7 linked regions of the Homo sapiens genome follow. The protein of the gene in region 7 purifies or fractionates together with the protein of the main gene of each other region. This does not show direct contact. Each region holds a gene or a part of one and is shown on either strand. Other genes may lie near its edges.

The links.
Region 1: the proteins of XPOT (region 7) and NUP205 fractionate together in Homo sapiens (co-fractionation; one large-scale study listed by BioGRID). This does not show direct contact.
Region 2: the proteins of XPOT (region 7) and RANBP2 fractionate together in Homo sapiens (co-fractionation; one large-scale study listed by BioGRID). This does not show direct contact.
Region 3: the proteins of XPOT (region 7) and NUP153 fractionate together in Homo sapiens (co-fractionation; one large-scale study listed by BioGRID). This does not show direct contact.
Region 4: the proteins of XPOT (region 7) and GCSH fractionate together in Homo sapiens (co-fractionation; one large-scale study listed by BioGRID). This does not show direct contact.
Region 5: the proteins of XPOT (region 7) and NUP98 fractionate together in Homo sapiens (co-fractionation; one large-scale study listed by BioGRID). This does not show direct contact.
Region 6: the proteins of XPOT (region 7) and ZDHHC5 purify together in Homo sapiens (co-immunoprecipitation; one large-scale study listed by IntAct). This does not show direct contact.

What each region holds. Positions count from the first base shown.
Region 1 is NC_000007.14:135,560,917-135,564,416, reverse strand, and holds part of NUP205 (nuclear pore complex protein Nup205), read right to left. Parts: intron 1-3,500. UniProt on the Homo sapiens protein: Plays a role in the nuclear pore complex (NPC) assembly and/or maintenance. May anchor NUP62 and other nucleoporins, but not NUP153 and TPR, to the NPC.
Region 2 is NC_000002.12:108,725,982-108,729,481, reverse strand, and holds part of RANBP2 (E3 SUMO-protein ligase RanBP2), read right to left. Parts: intron 351-3,500; coding exon 283-350; intron 1-282. UniProt on the Homo sapiens protein: E3 SUMO-protein ligase which facilitates SUMO1 and SUMO2 conjugation by UBE2I. Involved in transport factor (Ran-GTP, karyopherin)-mediated protein import via the F-G repeat-containing domain which acts as a docking site for substrates.
Region 3 is NC_000006.12:17,614,537-17,617,231, forward strand, and holds the end of NUP153 (nuclear pore complex protein Nup153), read right to left. Parts: intron 2,160-2,695; coding exon 1,991-2,159; intron 1,646-1,990; coding exon 1,561-1,645; 3' UTR 501-1,560; downstream 1-500. UniProt on the Homo sapiens protein: Component of the nuclear pore complex (NPC), a complex required for the trafficking across the nuclear envelope. Functions as a scaffolding element in the nuclear phase of the NPC essential for normal nucleocytoplasmic transport of proteins and mRNAs.
Region 4 is NC_000016.10:81,086,396-81,089,895, reverse strand, and holds part of GCSH (glycine cleavage system H protein, mitochondrial precursor), read left to right. Parts: intron 1-2,231; coding exon 2,232-2,295; intron 2,296-3,500. UniProt on the Homo sapiens protein: The glycine cleavage system catalyzes the degradation of glycine. The H protein (GCSH) shuttles the methylamine group of glycine from the P protein (GLDC) to the T protein (GCST).
Region 5 is NC_000011.10:3,721,055-3,724,554, reverse strand, and holds part of NUP98 (nuclear pore complex protein Nup98-Nup96 isoform 1 precursor), read left to right. Parts: intron 1-1,099; coding exon 1,100-1,398; intron 1,399-3,500. UniProt on the Homo sapiens protein: Plays a role in the nuclear pore complex (NPC) assembly and/or maintenance. NUP98 and NUP96 are involved in the bidirectional transport across the NPC. May anchor NUP153 and TPR to the NPC.
Region 6 is NC_000011.10:57,685,114-57,688,613, forward strand, and holds part of ZDHHC5 (palmitoyltransferase ZDHHC5), read left to right. Parts: intron 1-3,394; coding exon 3,395-3,500. UniProt on the Homo sapiens protein: Palmitoyltransferase that catalyzes the addition of palmitate onto various protein substrates such as CTNND2, CD36, GSDMD, NLRP3, NOD1, NOD2, STAT3 and S1PR1 thus plays a role in various biological processes including cell adhesion, inflammation, fatty acid uptake, bacterial sensing or cardiac functions.
Region 7 is NC_000012.12:64,414,392-64,417,891, reverse strand, and holds part of XPOT (exportin-T), read right to left. Parts: intron 2,986-3,500; coding exon 2,903-2,985; intron 1,195-2,902; coding exon 1,138-1,194; intron 1-1,137. UniProt on the Homo sapiens protein: Mediates the nuclear export of aminoacylated tRNAs. In the nucleus binds to tRNA and to the GTPase Ran in its active GTP-bound form. Docking of this trimeric complex to the nuclear pore complex (NPC) is mediated through binding to nucleoporins.

The sequences.
Region 1 (3,500 bases), on a different chromosome or scaffold from region 7:
AAATTAGCTGGGCATGGTGGCTAACACCTGTAATCCCAGTTACTTGGGAGGCCGGGGCAGGAGAATTGCTTGAACCCAGGAGGCAGAGGTTGCAGTCACCTGAGATCATGCCATTGCACTCCAGCCTGGGTGACAGGGCAAGACTCCGTCTCAAAAAAAAAAAAAAAAAAATAGCTGGGCATGGTGGCTTGTGCCTATAGTCTCAGCTACTCATGAGGCTGAAGTGGGAGGATCACCTGAGTCTCAGAGGGTAGAGGCTGTAGTATGCCATGACTGAGCCACTGCACTCCAGCGTGGGCAACAGAGTGAAACCTCGTCTCAAAGAAGAAAAAGAAAAAAAAAACACCAAAGGTAGCCGCAACAAAGAGTTATCTTCAATCTGTCTTGAGTTTGACCAATTTCAGTAAACACCTTTTTTTTGTTTGTTTTTTGTGACAGGGTCTTGCTGTCACCCAGGCTGGAGTGCAGTGAGGCAATCACAGCTCATTACAGCCTCAAACTCCTGGGCTCAAGCAACCTCCTGCCTCAGCTTCTCTAGTAGCTAGGATTACAGGCGCACGCGCACCACCAGACCTGGCTAATTTTTGTATTTTTTGTAGAACTGGGATGTTGCTATGTTGCCCAGGCTTGCCTTGAACTCCTGGCCTCAAGTGATCCTCCCTCCTCAGCCTCCTAAAGTGCTAGGATTACAGTAAATATCTTTTTTACTGATTACAAATGAAGGGACACTATAAATTTTTCAAAATTACTAAATATGTATTTTTACCATGTAGTTTAGTCAGTTGAGAAATACATTTATTTTCCTTAATGTTTAGGGATACCTCCAGCAAATCACATTTACTCACTCATTCACCATGTGTGAGGTATTGGTAAGATTATACTGCAGTGAGGAAAAACATTAATCATAATCATACATAAATGTAAAATCTGGCCGGGCACAGTGGCTCACGCCTGTAATCCCACCACTTTGAGAGGCCAAGGCGGGCCACATCACGAGGTCAGGAGATCAAGACCGTCCTGGCCAACACAGCGAAACCCCGTCTCTACCAAAAATACAAAAAATTAGCCAGGCGTGATGGCATGCGCCTGTAGTCCCAGCTGCTAGGGAGGCTGAGGCAGGAGAATCGCTTGAACCCAGGAGGCGGAGGCTGCAGTGAGCCGAGATCACGCCACTGCACTCCAGCCTGGGCTACAGAGTAAGACTCCATCTCAAAAAATAAAAAAATAAATAAAAATAAAATAAAATCCAACTGTGGTCAGGATATGAAGGATATGAAGGAGAGGTAGCCAGGGCAAGAGATCACATAATAGGGGACTCTGACCTAGCCAGAGGAAAGAATTATCCATGAGGAAGTGATAACTAGGCTGAAATCTGAAGAACAAAAGTGATAGTTAACTGACAGGTGGGAGGTGAAGACATGCATTCCAGGGAGAGGACAACCTGTGGGTTTCCATGGCAAGAGGGAATGCGGCATGTCAAAGAACTCAAAAGGCCAAGAGAGCTGCAGTACAGAAAACGGGTTTGGCAAGATCATCACACAGGGCTCACTTGCCCACGTTAAAGAATTTTGATGACCGAGTGTGGTGGCTCAGGCCTGTAATCCCAGCACTTTGGGATACCGAGGCGGGCAGATACGAGGTCAGGAGATCAAGACCATCCTGGCCAACACGGTGAAACCCTGCTCTACTAAAAATACAAAAATTAGCTGGGTGTGGTGGCGCACGCCTGTAGTCCCAGCTACTCAGGAGGCTGAGGCAAGAGAATCGCTTGAACTTGGGAGGCAGAGGTTTCAGTGAGCCAAGATCGCGCCACTGCACTCCAGCCTGGCAACAGAGCCAGACTCTGTCTCAAAAAAAAAAAAAAAAAAAAAGGATTTTGGTCTTTACTCTAAAAGATCAAGCCAAATGAAGATTTAAAACATGGGGACTTTCTGCTCATGCCTATAACCCCAGCACTTTGGGAGGCCGAGGCAGGTGAATCGTTTGAGGTCAGAAATTCGAGGCACCCCTGGCCAACGTGGTGAAACCCCATCTCTACTAAAATTACAAAAATTAGCCAGGTGTGGTGGTGGGCGCCTGTAATCCCAGCTACTTAGGGAGGCTAAGGCAGGAGAATCTCTTGAACCTGGGAGGCAGAGGTTGTAGTGAGCTGAGATCACACCACCGCACTCCAGTCTGGGCGACAGAATGAGCCCCTGTCTCAAAATAAAAAATAATTTTTTAAAAAGGAACTTTCTGAACTACAAGAAACAGAAGTTAACCCTATTGAGAGCTGTTTACAAGGATGGAAGAGACCAGAATGGGTGAAGGAATAGGAGGTATGAAAAGGGAGTCAGTAGGCTGGGCATAGCAGTTCAGGCCTGTAATCCCAGCTACTAGGCTGAGGCAGGAGAATCATTTAAACTTGGGAGGTGGAGACTGCAGTGAGCCGAGACTGCACCACTGCACTCCAGCCTGGGCAGAGTGAGGGAGGGAGGGAAGGAAGGAAGGAAGGAAGGAGGGAAGGAAGGAAGGAACAAAGGAAGGAAGGAGATGGAGTCCATGAATACTAACAAATCTTTTGAAAGGCTTGACTAGGAAGAGGACAGTAAGTGGAGTGACGCATGAGATCATCAGTGGAGAGAAAGGGAAGAGCAAGAGAGAGAAGTGAATATACAAGACAAAAAAAGGGGTAACAGGTGAAGAACACAATGGGTGGGATTTACATTAGATAGGAAGACAGAGGAAAAGTGATTCAAAAGAATGCAGACACACCTAGGTTTGTAGGTTTGAGAGTGAATAAAGGGAGTTCATGTATGTTGGCTCCTATTTTCTCTGTGACTAGAAGTCTGAGGGTTTAGTTAGTTGCAGGTTAAAGATTTGAAGAGTGTAGAAAGGTCTGAAGTAGTCACTGCTGTGAATGGACGAGGTGACCAGACTATCACAGAAGGACTGCCAAGCAGTGTTAATAGTTGCTTATTCACAAGTCTGTGAGTGTACTCAGCCAGGTTGATACAGGTCACAAGACTAGTTAAGTTATACAGCTGAAATACAAGCATAGGTTTTTTTGTTTGTTTTTTGTTTGTTTGTTTTTAAGACAGAGTCTCGCTCTGTTGCCTAGGCTGGAGTGCAGTGGTATGATCTCGGCTCACTGCAACCTCCTCCTCCTGGGTTCAAGCAATTCTCCTGCCTCAGCCTCCCGAGTAGCTGGGATTACAGACACCTGCCATCATGCCAGGCTAATTTTTGTATTTTTGTAGAGACAGGGTTTCACCATGTTGGCCAGGCTGGTCTCGAACTCCTGACTTCAGGTGATCTGCCCACTTCAGCCTCCCAAAGTGCTGGGATTACAGGCATAAGCCACCACACCTGGCCAACCATAGGTCTTAGAACTCTACAATCTCTGTATTTTTTCCTTACAACTCCAAGATGTTTGATTTTTTAAAACTGTAATTTAAAGGAAGCACATAACATAGAATGCAATCTCAACAAATTTTAAGTGTACAGTTCAGCAGTGTTCA
Region 2 (3,500 bases), on a different chromosome or scaffold from region 7:
GTCCTCTTTTACTCCAACAGAAGACAATTTTTAGAAAAAGTATTTGAAGCCAAACAATTTCTTGCCCTTGGTATAAAGCAGCAGCATGCAGAAAACACTAATTACGGTTTCAATCTCAATGGAATCTAGGCTGGTCCTTAGCATCAGTCTGAGTGATAAATCCCTTATTCCAGAATACACTTAGGAAGAACTACTAAGAACATATTTTTACCTATTTCAAAGAAGAAAATGAGAAAAGGCATTGATTTTAAAAAAAAAATACATGTTACAGTTTGTACTTACTTTTTAGCAAGATCATATTCTTTAGCTTCATAATACAGCTTTGCAAAATAGAATCCTTTCATTGACTTCTAAAAAAAATTAAAAGTTGTTTTACTTTTCATACAGAAATATTTTCCAACATTTTTTCAAAAGTAGTAAAAATCTGTCCTAAGTTGATGTTCAAATACGCCACTTTCATTCACTTAAAAGTTTTTTTAAAGGCTGACAAATGCATAATTCCATGTTTTATAATTTCCTATCACAAAACAAAAAATAGAGCTGGGTGCAGCGGCTCATGCCTGTAATCCCAGCACTTTGGGAGGCCGAAGTGGGCGGATCACCTGAGGTCAGGAGTTTGAGACCAGCCTGGCTAACATGGTGAAACCCCGTCTTGACAAAAATACAAAAATTAGCCAGGCATGATGGTGGGTGCCTGTAACCCCAGCTACTCGGGAGGCTAAGGCACGAGAATCAGTTGAACCCAGGAGGTGGAGGTTGCAGTGAGCCAGAGGTTGCAGTGAGCTGAGATCGTGCCATTGCACTCCAGCCTGGGCGACAGAGCGAGACTCCATCTCCCAAACATCATCATCATCATCATCATCATCATCATCATCATCATCATCATAAATAAGCTGGGTGCAGTTGGTCACACCTTTAATTCTAGCACTTTCAGAGACCAAGGTGGGAGGCTAGCTTTGAGGCCAAGAGTTTGAAACCAGCCTGTGCAACACAACAAGATCCTGTCTCCAGGGAGAAAAAAATAGCCAGGCATAGTGGAGCATGCCTGTGTTCCTAGCTACTCAGGAGGCCAAGGAAGGAGAATCACTTGAGCCCAGGAGGTTGACACTGCCGTGAGTTATGACTGTGACACTGCACTCCAGCGTGGGTGACACAGGGAGATCCTCTCTCTAAATAATAAATACATAACATACAAAAAATAAATTCAAGAAAGTAAGACAAGCAGACAACAGAAGAATTTTCATCAGCCTTGGAAATCTTGGAAACCCTGTGGTACCACTCTCTCACTTAACAAACAAAAGAAACCAGCTTTCTTTGGGGAGGAAAGGTATTCCAGAAATCTCTTTTCCTACCATGTGTAAGCCTCTATGGGAAAGAATAAGTAAGTACTTAGGATCTATTAAGGCACTGAGGATTCCCTGGTCCATGTACTGTTCTCTCTACAGATCAGATCAGTATTTTACAGTCAAGGAGTCAAAAAGGCAGAAATAAATATTGAATTCTTCAAGTAATAAACGAGGTCCACAGCCTGGCTCCTTGGTTACATAAACTCCAAAGTCCAAAATGCTGATGCACACCAGGCTGGGTGCGGTGGCTCACACCTGTAATCCCAGCACTTTCGGAGACCGAGGCGGGCGGATCACCTGAAGCCAAGAGTTCGAGACCAGCCTGGCCAACATGCAGAAACCTCCTTTCTACTAAAAATACAAAAATTAGCTGGGCATGGTGGCACACCCCTGTAATCCCCACTGCTTGGGAGGCTGAGGCAAAGAATCGCTTGAATCCGGGAGGCAGAGGCTGCAGTGGGCCAAGATCGCACCACTGCACTCCAGCGTGGGCAACAGAATGATTCCATCTCAAAAAAAAAAAAAAAAAAAATGCTGATACAACCAGAGTATGTTCCATCCATGTGATAAAGAGTATACAGCTACTCAAACATCTTATTTTTGAAATTCCAAGACCCCAGTGAATGTCCAAAACGATGAATAGTATCAAACCAGGTTGCCGTCAATCGAAACATGTTTCCTGTTTGTGTCCTCCACCCACAAATTTAATGTCTTGTCCATCTCAACTAAGCACTTATCACACACTATGGCTGTAACTTTTGCAGTTTGGGGTGTCACAACAAAACTAGCACAAATTTCTTTTTCCTTCTTCACAATTTCATGGACAAAAGATTTGTTCTTACCATAGATCTTAGCAACTCCAGTATATGATCTTTTTTCTTTCCTAAGTCAAAAACTCACCTCTTCTGAGGGGCGCCTCTGCCCGGCCGCCCCTACTGGGAAGTGAGGAGCCCCTCTGCCCGGCCACCACCCCGTCTGGGAGGTGTACTCAACAGCTCATTGAGAACGGGCCATGATGACAATGGCGGTTTTGTGGAATAGAAAGGCGGGAAAGGTGGGGAAAAGATTGAGAAATCGGATGGTTGCCGTGTCTGTGTAGAAAGAAGTAGACATGGGAGACTTTTCATTTTGTTCTGCACTAAGAAAAATTCTTCTGCCTTGGGATCTTGTTGATCTGTGACCTTACCCCCAACCCTGTGCTCTCTGAAACATGTGCTGTGTCCACCCAGGGTTAAATGGATTAAGGGCGGTGCAAGATGTGCTTTGTTAAACAGATGCTTGAAGGCAGCATGCTCGTTAAGAGTCATCACCACTCCCTAATCTCAAGTAATCAGGGACACAAACACTGCGGAAGGCTGCAGGGTCCTCTGCCTAGGAAAACCAGAGACCTTTGTTCACTTGTTTATCTGCTGACCTTCCCTCCACTATTGTCCCATGACCCTGCCAAATCCCCCTCTGTGAGAAACACCCAAGAATTATCAATAAAAAAATAAATTAAAAAAATAATAATAATAAAAAGCAAGGTGAGACTACAGTACTCTCCCTCTGCCATGTGAGGACAAGATGCCAGCCAACCTATAAGCCAGGAAGAAAGCCCTCATCAGGAACCAAAGCAGCAGCACCCTGATCTGCCGCTTCTAGCCTCCAGAACCATGAGAAAATAAATTTCTGTTGTTTAAGCCAAAAAAAAAAAAAAACAAAAAAACTCACCTCTTCACTTAAAGGAAGCACTATATGGCTTCTCTCTGCATATGTGAACTGCCAGCATCGCTACTCTTGCTCTTTGGTGCCATTTTAAATAAAATAAAGGTTACTTGAACACAAGCACTGCAATACTCCAACAACTGATCTGATAACTGAGATGACTAGTATGTAACTAGCGGGTGGCGAGCACATACAGCATGAATATGTCGGACAAAGGGATGACTTGTGTCCTAGGTAGGACGGAGCAGGAGGCCGTGAGATTTTTACCATGTTATTCAGAACCGTTTGCAATTTAAAACTCATGAAATGTTTATTTATATAATCTTCCATTCAATATTTTTGGACCACGGGTGACACAGCTAAGTAAAACCACGTAAGGCAATACTGTGGATAAGAAGGGACTACTGTACCAGCAACGAACAATCAGAAAAGGAAATTAAGAAAGCAATT
Region 3 (2,695 bases), on a different chromosome or scaffold from region 7:
ATAAAACCTGCACATTCGGAGGGCTGGCTTTTGGTATACTCAGGTTCTGCAGGGTCCACTGCTGAAATTTGTGGATTGTGGTTTGGGGGCGGGAGAACTGGGGGGGGGGGGGAGTGCAGTTCTGGGAACAATCTCCTGCACACACCAAGAGACAACTGTAGTTTTTGTGTATGTATTTCCAAGAACTTTAATAAACACTATCCAGTAACTTACCAAGGAAGATAGAAGCACAAAGAGAAATGAATGTGTGTATTTTCAACTTTTAAAAAAGGTACCTAAGTCGATATGCAAATTAGGCATGATTCCTAGCACCAGGCAAGAAGTAGGGTACCTTCTATATGTTGTGCATTCAGATACTTTCAGATACTTTCCCTTTCTCTTAGGAGTTGTCTAAATCATGTCAATGTATTCTTCTAATGAGACACTGTTAATCTTTATTTTACAAAGTCCCCCCAATAATACTGTGTGCCTTCATTATGAGGTAAAACTAGAACAAAAAGTATGTCATAATTTTTTATTGATGGCATTTATCCCATGGTTTAACATGTTAATTATACTGTAATAAACATGGCTTTAATATTAAACTTTTCCTTATTATCCAAAGTCACCACAGTCCATTTTAGTAAATATAAAAATATATGCTTAATACTTTGTACAATACTGGTTTTTGGTCCAAACAAAACTGGATCAGAAAAGCCAATAAATTCAACTTTAAGAATCCCCAATTTTTTTTTTAAAGATTTCCAAATGGATTTAGGCAACTTTGAATAATGGGATTTACATAATAAAATCTGAGACAAGACTAAACAAACAACAAAAAAATCTCTAACACAAAATTCAAATTTCAAGTTCACAGATTTATGTTATGCCAAAAAGTACAGAAACAAAATTGTATTTACACAAGTTTCATAATAAAATAATGAAAAAGGCAAGACAGGTGATAGGAGAATGAAAATATAGAAATAGCATATAATTATTAAATGGAGAGTGAACTAGATCTAACAAGTCCTTAGCACGGACCATTCTTTAATCAGGCTTCCTCTATCAGAAAAGTTTAGCGCACAATACACCCAACTCACTCACTTCACACATACACCAGCACAAACTCAGCATAGAAATCATCCGTTTCAACACTCTCTAATCTATACAGAATTCTAATCTATACAGAATTCCTCAGATATAATTACAATTTCAACGCGTTCCATGAACGCTTATCAGCGCACATAATGGTGTAGACAAAGAGGTTCTATACAAAGCCATTCACCGTGCAGGCTCCATTCCTGGGTACAGCCAGACTATGTCAAATCAGTGAATAATCTGCTGGATCATAAAATATTTTTGCTGAAGAATCAGTCACCAGTCTAGCTATTTATTTATTTAAAAAAGGGTGGGTGAGGCAGGGTGGGGCTTCTGTAACGAAAGAGAAAGGAGGAAAATTCCAAAATTAAAGAAGTCCTTAGGCAGATCTGACTTCAGATAACCCCAGCACAAAGTACAATCCAGTATCTGAAAGCAGGGCACCAGCTGTTGTTAAAATTGAGTACAACACCAATGTGACCTTTATTTCCTGCGTCTAACAGCAGTCTTTATCTTGCGACCAGAGAATGAAGTTCCAGAAGAAGAGAACACATTTTTCCCATTTGACCTGTGAAAAATAAAAACTTCATAATGTGACATGATGCTCTGAGCAAAATTTCCAAATGCTAACATTTACCATGAGCAGCACAAGGGTAAGGGGGGTCGGGTGGGGGGGGAGTAGACTCACATTGGTATATACATTTTCTGCTACACCTAACACACACGCTACTGTTATTTTTTTCTCAAACTGTAATATAATCCTCCAGAATTATAGTATGGTAAATTTATGTTGGAGAACATATTTAATTTTACCCAAACCATACGGAATCTTGATGACTTTTAAAAACAAAACATATACATGCACATACCCTTACCAATGTAACTTCTCCATTTCAATAAAAAATTCTCTTACCCCACTGTAAATGCTGCTGGAGACTGGTTAAATGGAAAGCCCCCCGAGCCTGAAGGCTGGGCTGAGGCTGCAGGTGTGCTAGAATTTGCACCAAATGTGAACACTCCTGATGGACTGTTGTTTGTGAAGTTGAAATTTGTAGTGCTGCTGCCAAACTGGAAAGCCGAACCTGCAATAGTTAAAGCAGAAATACTTCATTAGGGCAAAATGATAGGTTTTTTTGTTTGTTTGTTTGTTTTTTGAGACGGAGTCTCGCTCTCTTGCCCAGGCTGGAGTACAGTGGCACAATCTTGGCTCACTGCAACCCTTGCCTCCTGGGTTCAAGTGATTCCCCTGCCTCAGCCTCCCCAGTAGCTGGGACTATATAGGTGCGTGCCACCATGCCTGGCTAATTTTTTGTATTTTAGTAGAGACGTGGTTTCACCATGTTGGCCAGGATGGTCTCGATCTCCTGACCTTGTGATCTGTCCACCTCGGCCTCCCAAAGTGCTGGATTACAGGCGTAAGCCACTGCACCCGGCCGCAACATGATAGGTTTTTAAATTAAAGACTCTGACCTTTACATATAAAAACATGCAAAGAATTAAAATATTCTGGTCTTTTAATCTAAAGAAAACTATTTTCTCCACTGACACATAGTACATACTTGACACCTCCAACAAATCACACAACTTACCTATGACCAAGGGGAAAAGGGCACCCTGG
Region 4 (3,500 bases), on a different chromosome or scaffold from region 7:
TTGTGGGTCCAGTGATACACACGTGACCAGGAGGACGGGAAGAAAGAAAACCTCAATAGGCACAGATGACACAAAGGGAAGGCTTTTATTCAGCCCATCTTTTCTCTGTAAATTCCCCTCAATTCCATATGGCGATACTGTTTAAGAGAAAATGAGAAGCCAAATCCTAGCGTGTTCAGTGATTTTCAACTGGATGTATGTATTGGGTGAGGCGGGGAAGGGGGGATGTTAACTGATGGGAATGCACTCGTGTCACTTAATGATGGAGCTATGTTCTGATAACTGCCTCCTCGGGGATTGCGTCCTTCTGTGAGCCTCCTAGGGTGCCCTTACACACACCTAGATGGTACAGCCTATTACACACCTTGGCTGTATGGTACAGCCTTTGCTCCTGGGCTACAAACCTGTACAGCATGTTACTGTACTGAATACTGTAGGCAATCGTAACACACTTGGCCTATCAAAACACAGAAAAGGTACAGTAAAAATATGGCATAGGTTGAGCATCTCTAATCCCTGAAATACTCCAAAAATCTGAAACTTTTTGAGCACCAACGTGACTCTTAAAGAAAATGCTCATTGGAGCGTTTTGGATTCCAGAATCTTGGATGAGGAGTGCTCATGTATTAAGTATAATGCGAGTATTCCAAAATCTGAAATCCAAAACACTTCTGCTCCCAAGCATTTTGGACAAGTGATACTAACTATATTATAATTTCATGGGACCACTGTCATATATGTGGTCTGTTGTTGACCAAAATGCCATTAGGCGGCACGTGACTGTACAAAATTCCTCAGACATGTAAGATGCTTGTGTGTTGATAATCACAATTATATCTTCCTTGGCATCTCTGTATACCTACTATGAGGCCCAGTGTTGGATAGTTTTTGAGATGTTGTGTAAGATGTCGTCCTTACCTCCTAGAGTTTATTTGTGAGGGGAATTACCTACATGAGAATGACTTGCAAACATTACATGATGGCATCGGAACGGTGGGGTTGTAATTCACTTACCTGATGGAGAGACCACTTCTTTCTGGAGTCAGGGACTTCAGGGAGTACAAGGTGTGAGGACTATGATTTGTAGAATCAGTGAGCAGGATTTCAGCAAATGCTTTGGGGGCAATGGTGTACATAAAACTACAGAGGTGGAAGAACACCAAATATGTTCATGCCCAGAAGAGCTAGCAGTGTTTGCCGGGCGCAGTGGCTCACACCTGTAATCCTAGCACTTTGGAAGGCCGAGGCAAGTTGATTATCTGAGGTCAAAAGTTCAAGACCAGCTGGCCAACATGGTGAAACTGCATCTCTAGCAAAAAATTTTAAAAAATTAACCAGGCATGGTGGTGGGCACCTGTAATCCCAGCTACTTGGGAGGCTGAGGCAGGAGAATCGCTTGAACCTGGGAGGCAGAGGTTGCAGTGAGCTGAGATCAGGCCACTGCACTCCAGCCTGGGCAACAAGAGAGAAACTCTGTCTCAAAACCAAATAAAACAAAGAGCTAGCAGTCTTGTGTGGGGCAGGAGGCTTGTGTTAGGTTGCTAAAGCCTGTGAGCCAGATCTGGCTGGCGGCTGGTCTCTTGCAGCTCCTGAGTTGAGAATAGTTTTTTAAAATCATTTTATTTTACTTAGTTTTGGAGAACAGGGTCTTGCTATATTGCCAAGGCAGGTCTCAAACTCCTGGGCTCAAGCTATCCTCCCACCTCTGCCTCCCTAAGAGCTGGGATTACAGGCATGAGCCACCGCACCCAGCCATTTATTTTTATTCTTGACATGGAGTCTTGCTCTGTCGCCAAGGCTGGAGTATACAGGTGCAATCTCAACTCACTGCAACCTCTGCCTCCCAGATTTAAGTGATTCTCCTGCCTCAGCCTCCTGAGTAGCTGGGATTGCAAGTGCCTGCCACCACACCCAGCTAATTTTTGTATTTTTATTAGAGACTGGGTTTCACCATGTCAACCAGGCTGGTCTCGAACTTCTGACCTCATGTGATAACACCCACTTTGGGCCTTTCAAAGTGCTGGGATTACAGGCGTGAACTACCACACCTGACTGAGAGTAGTTTTTACATGTTTAAAGGATTTTAAGGAAAACTCAAGAATGTAGCCCCTCCAGTATAAAATATATACTAAATCTTCATTATAGGGGATTCAGTGTTTGGCTTATTCTGTTTACTGGAGGGTTTAGTTATAACTTCTTAGAGATTTTTGGTTTTGTCTTGTTTTATTTAGGAAGCGTTGGGAGATGTTGTTTATTGTAGTCTCCCTGAAGTTGGGACAAAATTGAACAAACAAGGTGAGTGTTCTTAGGATCTTAGAATGATCCATGCCATGAATTTTGTTTACATTGAATAGTAATTTGTTTGTACCCTGGATTAATTAGAGTGCTTTTTTTTTTTTGGAGACAGTCTTGCTTTGTCACCCAGGCTGGAGTGCAGTGGCACCATCTCGGCCCACTGTAACCTCTGCCTCCTGGGTTAAAGCGATTCTTGTGTCTCAGGCACGTGCCACCACGCCCAGCTAATTTTTGTATTGTAGAGACAGAGTTTCCCCATGTTGGCAAGGCTGGTCTCGAACTCCTGACCTCGAGTGATCCGCCCGCCTTGGCCTCCCAAAATGCTGAGATTACAAGTGTGAGCCACCGTGCCCAGCCAATTAGAGTGCTTTTGACCCAAGTATTAGGTTGGTGTAAAAGTAATTGCTACTCAGAGGCTGAGACAGGAGAATTGCTGGAACTTGGGAGGCGGAGGTTGCAGTGAGCCGAGATCCCATCACTGTACTCCAGCCTGGGCAACAGAGCAAGACTCCGTTTTAAAAAAAAGAGAGAAAAAAAGTCTATTAATATCGATATGTTAGATAATATCCTTAAACTAATGAATACCCTTTTAAGACATTCTGCTAAAGGTAGTTTTTTAACTTGATGTAAAATCTACATACAGTGAAATGCATGGACCAGAAGTGTACAATTCAGTGAGTTTTAACAAATGTATACACTTAAATAAACCTTCCTAGTCAAATAGATGACCTCTTCTCTCGTTTCTACACCATAGGTTTATTTTGCCTATTCTTTATATGAAAGGAATCACACAGTGTGTGTTACGTTTGGCTGCTTTTGGGATTTACCAAGCTTCTTGAATCTGTAGATTGAATTTTTTTTCGATTAAATTTGGAGACTTCTTATTTTAGTCATGATTTCTTTCTCTTCCCACTTCATTCCTTTTTCCTTCTCTGATTTGAGACATGTTCGTCATATCACTTGATATTGTCCTATAGGGTCCCTAAGACTGTTAACTTTTCAGCCTTTTTTAAACTGTTCTTTTTTTTTTCTTCTTATTTTTTTGAGACGGAGTCTTGCTCTGTTGCCCAGGCTGGAATGCGATGGTGCGACATTGGCTCACTGCAACCTCCGCCTCCTAGGTTCAAGCAATTCTCCTTTTTCAGCCACCCAAGTAGCTGGGAGTACAGGCATGCACAACCACACCAGGCTAATTTTTTAAATTA
Region 5 (3,500 bases), on a different chromosome or scaffold from region 7:
CTCCTAAAACGTTGGTATTACATGCGTGAGCCACCGTGCCCAGCCTTGTACAGTGATTCTTAATAGTTAGGTATATATTCTTTCATATCAGAAATTTATTTATTTATTTTTTTTTTTTGAGATGGAGTTTTGCTCTTATTACCCAGGCTGGAGTGCAGTGGCACGATCTCGGCCCACTGTATCCTCTGATGTGAATTGTTCAAGCAATTCTCCTGCCTCAGCCTCCTGAGTAGCTGGGATTACAGGCATGCACCTCCACGCCCAGCTAATTTTTTTTGTATTTTTAGTAGAAACAGGGTTTCGCCATGTTGGTCAAGCTGGTCTTGAACTCCTGACCTCAAGCGATCCACCCGCCTCGGCCTCACAAAGTGCTGGGATTACAAGCGTTATCCACCACACCCAGCCGAAATTTCTTTCTTTATAAATATATTTTATTATATAAAGATTATGCACGAATGATATATTCTGTAACCTGCTTATTTCCATTTATTTTATTAGAAATGCCTTTCCATTATCTGTATGAATATATTTGTCTTTTCTTTTTTAATGATTGCATAAGTCATTATTGTGAATGTAAGATAACTTGACCAGTTCCTTGTTAGTGGACATTTAGATTATCCGGTATTCCTGTACTCAAAACAGTGCTTCAGTAAAAATCCTTATATACTGGCACAAGTTCTCAGGGCCTCCTGAGGGCTGTATCACGAAAAAGAAAAAAAAAAAAAGAAACCCTTTGTATAGACACCTTTGTACTCCTGTTTTTTTTTTCTTTTGGATAAAATTCTAGTGTTTTTTATTATTATTATTATTTATAAAGCATTTTTTAACATTTTGTTGATTGTAATCTTAAAAATCTAACATTTTTTTCAGTTTTTAATCTTAAAATTAACCAATTATTTGATTCCATATAGGAGAGTATACAATAGAGATAGTAATTATCTGTTTCACAGTACTGCTGTAGTAAGTATTAAGTGAATTTTTAATACATGGAACTATCCAGAACAGTGCCAGGCACTTAGTAAAGGCTCGGTATTAGTTAGCTATTATCATTGTTATTACTACTACAAGAGGCTAAGGTATTATTTCTTTTCCTTTGCAGATTTAGTTTCCTAAGCAAACCTGTTGATGAGAATCACCAGCAGGATGGAGATGAAGATTCCCTTGTTTCACATTTTTATACTAACCCTATTGCCAAACCTATTCCTCAAACCCCAGAAAGTGCTGGAAATAAACACAGCAACAGCAACAGTGTGGATGATACCATTGTTGCATTAAACATGCGTGCTGCTTTGCGAAATGGGCTGGAAGGAAGCAGTGAAGAAACGTCTTTTCATGATGAGTCACTTCAGGATGACCGAGAAGAAATAGAAAATAATTCTTACCATATGCACCCAGCAGGTCAGGTTCAGATTGGTGCATGTTTAATCTCTTACCAGTCATTCGAGATGACTTGCTTGTTGCAGATATTCAACATATGGAAGTCAGCTGTTTGGCATTTTAAGTATTATTTTATGTGATCCCACATAGGAGAGCTTAATATTTAAACAGTTTTATGCTTTAGTTGATTCAGAGTTCACATACTCTTTGGACCTTAGAGTATGAAAATTGATACATCTTTAATTATCCTGGTGTAGTCTAAAGAACCCAAATTTTATAGCCAAAGAGACTATCCTGATATTTTCCCTGGCTTTGTAAACTCGGATAGATTGCTTATTGTTTTTTGTTTGTTTGTTTGTTTTTTCTTGAGACAGTGTCGCTCTGTCGCCCAGGCTGGAGTGCAGTGTCGCAGTCTTGGCTCACTGCAACCTCAACCTCCAGGGATCAGGACCTCTCATCTCAGCCACCCGAGTAGCTGGCACTACAGGCACATGATACCACACCCCGTTAAGTTTTGCATCTTTTGTTTTGCCATGTTTCCTGGGCTGGTCTCAAAATCCTGGGCTCAAGTGATCCTCCTATCTTGGCCTCCCAAAGTGCTAGGATTACAGGCATGAGCCACCATGCCCAGCCCATTTTGGGTGTTTTGTGGTATTCTTGAAGTGTCTCCAAAATTTATATTTAGTTTTCTTATTGCCATTATATATATATATATATTTGGTTACTTAGTATCATAAGGAAAGAAGTTTATACTTTGACAGTAAGAATCCCAGGTAGCCTGGGTGTGGTGGCTCAGCACTTTGGCAGGCTTAGGTGGGAGGATCGTTTGAACCCAGAAGTTTGAAATCAGTCTGGGCAACATAGCAAGACCTGATATCTACAATAAACTTAAAAGTAATTAGCCAGGTGTGGTGGCATGTACCTGTAGTTGCAGCTACTACGGAAGCTGAGGTGGGAGGATCACTTGAACCCAGGATTCAAGGTTGCAGTGAGCTATGATTATGCCACTGAACTCCAGCCTGGGTTGACAGACCAAGATCCTGTCTCCTAAAAAAAAAAAAAAAAAAAAAAAGAATTCCAGGTGCTTAATCTGTATTTGTGTATGTATCTCTACATGAATTTATTATGCTACTATATATCTTTTTAATAGGAAGTTTTATATTCTAGTTTTTTCATTTACCTTGTTTGCTGCCACCCAATTTAGAGTTCCCTTCCCAAGAAGCAAGTATACAAGTGGGTGTTGCTGGAGGCTGGAGTTTGGTCTGATGTTGGCCTGAAATACTTTTCTCTCAGAGAGCAAGTTAGCCTTATATCTGACTACAAGTAGGACAAGGAGTGAATAGAGCAAGCAAGCACACCAGCGTTCCACTACTTTCCTTGAGTTTTTCAGCGCTCTGCTTTTTTTATTTTGGTATTTTTTTTTCTATTTTAATTTATTCTTTCTTTCTTCTTTTCTTCCTTCCTCCCTCCCTCCCTTCCTTCCGAGTTTCACTCTTGGTTGCCCAGGCTGGAGTGCAGTGGTGTGATCTCAGCTCACTGCATCCTCTGCCTCCCAGGTTCAAGCGATTCTCCTTCCTCAACCTCCCGAGTAGCTGGGATTACAAGCACCCGCCACCATGCCCAGCTAATTTTTGTATTTTTGGTAGATAATGGATTTTTGCCATGTTAGCCAGGCTTGTCTTGGACTCCTGGCCTCAAGTGATTTACTCACCCCGGCCTCCCAAAGTCCTTGGATTACAGGCATGAGCCACCTTGCCTGGCTGGATTTTTCATCTTTCTTTTAGCTCTTTATTTGGGAGTGTAAATTTGAAAAATAAAAGAGGTTTATGCAAAACAGGCAATGAAACAAGAAGAATTGGGTTTGGAGTTTTATATCTACTTCTATTGTTAAATTACAGTATAAGCCAACACAAGTTATTTCCACTGTAGGTTTTGGTATCCTTGTGTGTAAAATAAAATAAAAAGCTGATTAAGCTTTTCTCAGAGTATTTTATGAGATACCTTTTATAGTCCGGGATGTTAATGGGTGTCCTTTGAAAATAATGTTCTGTGGTTAAATCTGGAAAAACACGAGGTTAAGCAGAGTTTAATAGGCTATTTACTGTAAGTTTTAGACTCTTTGA
Region 6 (3,500 bases), on a different chromosome or scaffold from region 7:
CTCCAGCCTGGGCAACAGCAAGACTCCGTCTCAAAAAGAAAGAAAAAAAGAACTTCATTGTGCTCCCAAAGCCTACATCATTGTGCTTTGTTTGTGACTTCCCTTCAAAGATTGGGTGAGGGAAAAGAACTTTGTGTCCCTAAAGCCAAGAAAGGCTATTTTAATGAGCCTTTAATGTTCATTCATCAAATATTTATTGATGTATTATGGAAGGCACTATGATGGTCATTTGGGGTTTTTAAGAAGGTCATTGCTGGCCGGGCGTGGTGGCTTACGCCTGTAATCCCAGCACTTTGGGAGGCCAGGGCGGATCACTTGAGGTCAGGAGTTCGAGACCAGCCTGGCCAACATGGCGAAACCCCGTCTCTACTAAAAATATAAAAATTAGCCAGGCATGGTAGTGCACGTGCCTGTAACCCCAGCTCCTTGGAAGGCTGAGACAGGAGAATTGCTTGAACCTGGGAGGTGGAGGTTGTGATGAGCCGAGATTGCCCCATTGCACTCTAGCCTGGGCGATAAGAGCAAAACTCCATCTGAAGAAAAGTAAATAAAAAATAAAAAGGTCATTCCTTTCAAATAGCTCAGACTAGAAAGGAAGATAGGAAGACACCTCTATAAACAAATACACCGTGGGCCGGGTGCCGTGACTCACGCCTGTAATCCCAACTCTTTGGGTGGCCCAGGTGAGTGGATCACCTGAGGTTGGGAGTTCGAGACAAGCCTGACCAACATGGAGAAACCCTGTCTCTACTAAAAATACAAAATTAGCCGGGCGTGGTGGCGCATGCCTGTAATCCCAGCTACTCGGGAGGCTGAGGCAGGAGAATCGCTTGAACCCGGGAGGTGGAGGTTACTGTGAGCTGAGATTGCGCCACTGCACTCCAGCGACAGTGTGAGACTACATCTCAAAACAAACAAACAAAAAACAAATACATTGTGTAAGAGTAATCAAAGAGATCACTTCTGGTAGATGATGATGTAGAAGGATCAGACATTTCAAAATAAGGAGCATTGCAACTGGGCATGCTGGTGCCCACCTGCGGTTCCAGCTACTTGGGAGGCTGAGGTTGGAGGATCAGTTGAGCCCAGGAGTTCAGGGCTGCAGTGAGCTGTGGTCGCAGCACAGCACTCCAGCCTGGGTGATAGAGCAAAACTCTCTTAAAAGAAAAATAGCATTTGAATTTTTTCCCTTTAAAAGAAAAAAATCTTTTTTTTTTTGAGACAGAGTCTCACTCTCTGTTGCCCAGGCTGGAGTGCAGTGGCTCCATCTCGGCTCACTGCAAACTCTGCCTTTCGGGTTCAAGCAATTATTCTACCTCAGCCTCCCGAGTCGCTGGAATTACAGGAGCGTGCCACCGTGCCTGGCTAATTTTTGTATTTTTAGTAGAGATGGGGTCTCACCATGTTGGCCAAGCTACTCTGGAACTCCTGACCTCAAATGATCCACCTGCCTCACCCTCCCAGAGTGCTGGGATTACAGGCATGAGCCACTGTGCCTGACCAAAAGAAAAAATCTTTTATTTAAAGATTTCAATAAGTAGTGCACATTCATTATGTACGAAGTACAAAAAAGGCAAAACATTACCTATAATTTCACAGACCAGAGCTAACTACTGTTATATTGTGGTATATATCCTTGCAATATTTTGAAGACTTAAAAAATATATGTGTATATTTATGTATACCATGTATCTGCAGTATATATTTGTGTGTGTGTGTGTTTTTTTTTTTTTTCCAGACAGTGTCTTACTCTGTCACCAAGGCTGGAGTGCAGTGGCATGATCTTGGCTTACTGCAACCTCTGCCTCCCAGATTCAAGCCATTCTCCTGCCTCAGCCTCCCAAGTAGCTGGGATTACAGGCGTGTGCCACCACCCCTGGTTAATTTTTATATTTTTTGTAGAGATGGGGTTTCGCCATTTTGGCCAGGCTGGTCTTGAACTCCTGGCCTCAAGTCATCTGCCCTCCTTGGCCTCCCAAAGTGCTGGGATTACAGGCATGAGCCACCGTACCCAGCTGTACAGTTCTTTACCTAGCATTTCTTGTGATGTAAATATGAAAAAATGCTATGTAAAGAAATCAGTAAAATTTGAAAACTTAATTTTTAATTCCACACTATCATCTATTTAATTTTTCCTTCCCACATTTTTTTTTTCTAGGTTAATAATAAAAATTGCTCTGGGTGCGGTGGCCCATGCTTGTAATCTTAATACTTTGGGAAGCTGAGGCAGGTGGATTGCCTGAGCTCAGGAGTTTGAGACCAGCCTGGGGAACACGGTAAAACCCCGTCTCTATTAAAAATACAAAAAATTAGCTGCCGAAGTGGCGTGCGCCTGTAATCCCAGCTGTTTGGGAGGCTGAGACAGAAGTATCACTTGAACCCGGCAGGTGGAGGTTGCAGTGAGCCAAGATCACGCCCTTGCACTCCAGCTTGGGTAACAGAGCAAGACTCCGTCTCAAGAAAAAAAAAATTGCTAACTGTATATGAGAAGGCAAATAATGTCTTTTAAGTTTTGAAATGGGATGGTGGGTTTCTGATAGCTGAAAATTGAGAGAAAGGGCATTTATGCTTGTGCAACAAATAATACTGAAATACGTATATGTAGAGAAAATTCATAGAGTAGGGGAAGACATTTTGGGAAAGTTTTTTTTTTTTTTTTTTTTTTTTTTAAGATGAAGATGAAGTCTTGCTGTGTTGCCCAGGCTTGAGTGCAGTGGCGTGATCTCAGCTCACTGCAACCTCCACTTCCCGGGTTCAAGCGATTCTCTTGCCTTAGCCTCCTGAGTAGCTGGGACTACAGGTGCATGCCACCACACCAGGCTAATTTTTGTGTTTTTAGTAGAGACGAGGTTTCACCATGTTGGCCGTGCTGGTTTTGAACTCCTGAGCTCAGGCAATCCGCCCTTCTCGGCCTCCCAAAGTGTTGGGATTACAGGCGTGAGCCACCATGGTTGGCTGGGCAAAGGATTCGTGCCTGGAAAAAAAGGTTGATGTTAGTTCCTCTCTTGGATTGCTATAGTTCACTCATATAAATGTAGATACTGAACTCTTATGCAAACTCATTATGTATGTGCTTTGATATGTAAACTATTTCTTTAAAATATATTCATATACTTAAACCAAATAACACCAGCAGATGCATACAAGAGCTACCTCTTGAGTCATTTTATCTCGAACCTCACTTCCCAATGCAGAATAAATTGCTCCCTCATCCATGTTCCCATAGTGTTGTATAAAGACCTGACCTCACAGTCTTATAGTTCCTAGTTCCTAGTCTCACTCATTAGACTGTGAATTCCTCAAAGGCAGAAGCTATATTTTAAACATCATTGAATCCCTAGCACTTACTACAGTTCTGGCATAGTTGTTTTTAATTGACTTTTCCTCTCTACAGCTGAGGAGGATGAGGACAAGGAAGATGATTTCCGAGCTCCCCTTTACAAAACAGTGGAGATAAAGGGCATCCAGGTGCGCATGAAATGGTGTGCCACCTGCCGCTT
Region 7 (3,500 bases):
TTAAAGATAAGGACAAGAGTGGCAGGTAGGGCATCAATATCAATCTTTAATTTGTGATTCTGTTCATGTTGAAACAAATGATGGCTACACAATTTTTCGAATGAAAATGTTTTGTGGTCTGTGATCTACAGAATAAACCAATAGGTGAACTAGGAATCCTCTCAGTAGTGATTTGTTATTTTGCTTAATTAGTAAGTCAGAGATTCTGAACACAAGTGCCCATGCAGCTACTTAACTCTAAGAGAGAATTGTCATGTAGAAAAACAGGCCTGGTGTTACCAGATATTCTGACTTTTCCAGAAAAGCTGGAAATCTAGATTTTTCTGTGAAATATCTGGATTTTCATTTTTTTTTTTTTTTTTGAGACAAGGTCTTGCTGTATTGCCCAGGCTGAAGTGCAGTGGCACCATCATGGCTCACTGGAGCCTCAACCTCCTGGCCTCAGCTTCCCCAGTAGCTGGGAATACAGAAGCGCGCAATCATGCCTGGCTAATTTTTTAAAAAAATTTTTGTAGAGATGAGGTCTCACTATGTTGCCTAGGCTGGTCTCAAACTCCTGAGCTCAAACGATCCTCTTGCCTTGGACTCCCAAAGTGCTGAGATCATAGGCATGAGCCACTGCGCCCAGCCTTGGATTTTTATGTGTAACCAACAAACTCAGCACTTTTTTTATTTTTGAGACGGAGTCTCGCTGTCACCCAGTCTGGAGTGCAGTGGTGTGATCCCGGCTCACTGCAACCTCCGCCTCCCAGGTTCAAGCAATTCTCGTGCCTCAGTCTCCTGAGTAGCTGGGATTACAGGTGCATGCCACCACATCTGACTAGTTTCTGTATTTTTTGTAGAGACGGGGTTTCACCATGTTGGCCAGGCTGGTTAGTCTCAAACTCCTGACTTCAAGTGATCTACCGGCCTCAGCCTCCCAAAGTGCTCGGATTACAGGCGAGAGCCACCTCACCTGGCCAACTCAGCACTTTTAAAACACTTTGGGGTACATCAAAACGTATCTATAACCTGGATATAACATATACACTGTGAATTTACAACCTGTATTATGGTTTCCTTATGGAAGAAAAACATTAAATTAAAAAAATGACCTCTCCCCGCAAATCTGAGTCAAAACAGTAAGAAAAGCCTTACTTGTATTTAACTTGATGTTCCAGTACTTGAAAGCAGAAAAACTTCACATGATCATCACTGAAAAAGAAAAAAAGAAAATGAGATAAGCAGAATATGAACTGAGGAAAACAAATCAAAGGCAAAATAGTAATGAGTAATACAGCAGAAAAGTTTCTCAAACTAGACCTTTGGCTTGTTTCATACTTACTGGTCTCATTTTATGACATTAAAATCCATTTACTTAAAAAGCTATGAGAACTCTAAATATTACACAATATTTAAAATTTCCATTAAATCTGACAAGCAAACTAACCAAGATATTAAGATGCACCTTGAATACAATGCTTTGTAAGCAGCAAACCATCCCTCTAAATTCCAGATATTAAGATTCCTGGAACAGTCCCTTCATTTTACAATAACAGGTTAGGTGTAAAATTACAAATGGCAGAACAGACAGAGTCTGAGTGAAAGTAAAGATGGTCGTCCAAGTCCTGCTTAAAATTCAACCCCAGTAGTTCTATTGTAGCCAAATCCAAAACAAGCAGGGCCACATGGACTGTCAGTCCAACTTCAAAGTTTCGTACAGGACACTAAATTACAAATATGGTACCCTTGCTTATACAAGATGGGGGCAAAAGTCAACACACCAATTACCCACTTCCAACTGTCTTTCTAGGGGAGTGGCAGAGTTGCAGTTAGCCAGCTATAAACACTGACAAAGATCTTCTAGAGACCAACAATCTGCCAATGAAGTGAGTATAAGAGAGTTCCTATTTCCGTAAAAAGTTAGTTGAATGCTTTAGAAAGATTTCATAGAAAGCCACACTGCAGAAGGAAAAAATCTTGTACATATTTGACATGGCCTATATAACCAGAAGACTTGAGAGGCGGGGACAAATATCTTAAAAATCTATGGATCGTCACTCATTGTACAGAGACCCATGCTAGAAATTGTAGAGGATGGGTTACAGGTGTGACCAACCTACGAATAAAGTGAATGCTAGTTAGTATACAAAGATAAAGACTGTGGTCCAATATTAAAAGATTGGTCACCGAATGATTATATACCTTAAGTTAAAATTAAAAATTAAGATATAGGCCGGGTACGGTGGCTCACGCCTGTAATCCCAGCACTTTGGAAGGCCGAGACGGGCGGATCACAAGGTCAGGAGATCGAGACCATCCTGGCCAACACAGTGAAACCCTGTCTCCACCAAAAAGAAATACAAAAAAATTAGCCGGGCATGGTGATGGGCACCTGTAGTCCCAGCTACTCAGGAGGCTGAGGCAGGAGAATGGCAAGAACCCAGGAGGCGAAGCTTGCAGTGAGCCTAGATTGCGCCACTGCACTTCAGCCTGGGCGACAAAGCGAGACTCCATCTCAAGAAAATAATAATAATAATAATAAAATAAATAAATAATTTTAAAATTAAGATATATATCATTTACAATCACCGTCTTTACCAAAGTTTTAGGAAAGCAGTTATCACCCTCAATCATAAGATAAGGAAGTTTTTACTGCACTTTATTCCAGCTGGGATCTGGTGACAGGTACACAATATATACCAAAGGATGGTTTTACTGAAAAGTTAATTCTGAAATGGCCAAACTGGGTTTACTACTTTTCTCATTTCTACATGGAATGACTATATGTTAATGGCTTTGCAAAAAAAAAAAAAAGTCATAAAATGTTTTTATGAAAACACTTTCCAAATACAGGTAAATTTCACAGTCCTGTCATGTCCACAGAAATTTAAATTGTCATGCAAATTTTGTTTTTAATTACCTGTATGTCCTCTGGGCTAGAGCTTCTGCACACACCTGCCAGGCATCTGGGGAAATTTTTAACTGCTCAAAATAGGCCAGGGCCTATAAGATTGCAAAACAAAAAAATGCATTTAGAATAAACAATCTCAATGCCCTGCTAATATAAACAAAATATTCTGAGAGTTGCAAACCTATAACAAATCAGTAAACTTAATAGAAAAACAGTTAAAACATTAAATGCAGGCTTCCGAATATATGCAACTTGGGGTCATTCCTAAAAATAGGTTAAATAAATATAAATTCCATCAGTTAGATAATCAAACCTGTTTTCTTACAGCAGCAACAACACAAAAATGCCCCGCAGCCTTCATGGGGTTATTATGAAGAATGAGAGCAAGTGCTTTGTCAAGTGCCATACTACTGAGAAATTGCAGAGGATGAGTTAAGGGTGTGATCATTTTATAATATGCAATTATAAAATGGCACGTGAAGGGCACTTTTCCTATTTAATAGCACATCTGCTATTAAAGCGGTGATTATAAAAGATAAAACATACTGTGTACCTTATCTGATCTACTGTTACACAGGAGAGTATTTCAAGTCTTTAATTATATCAT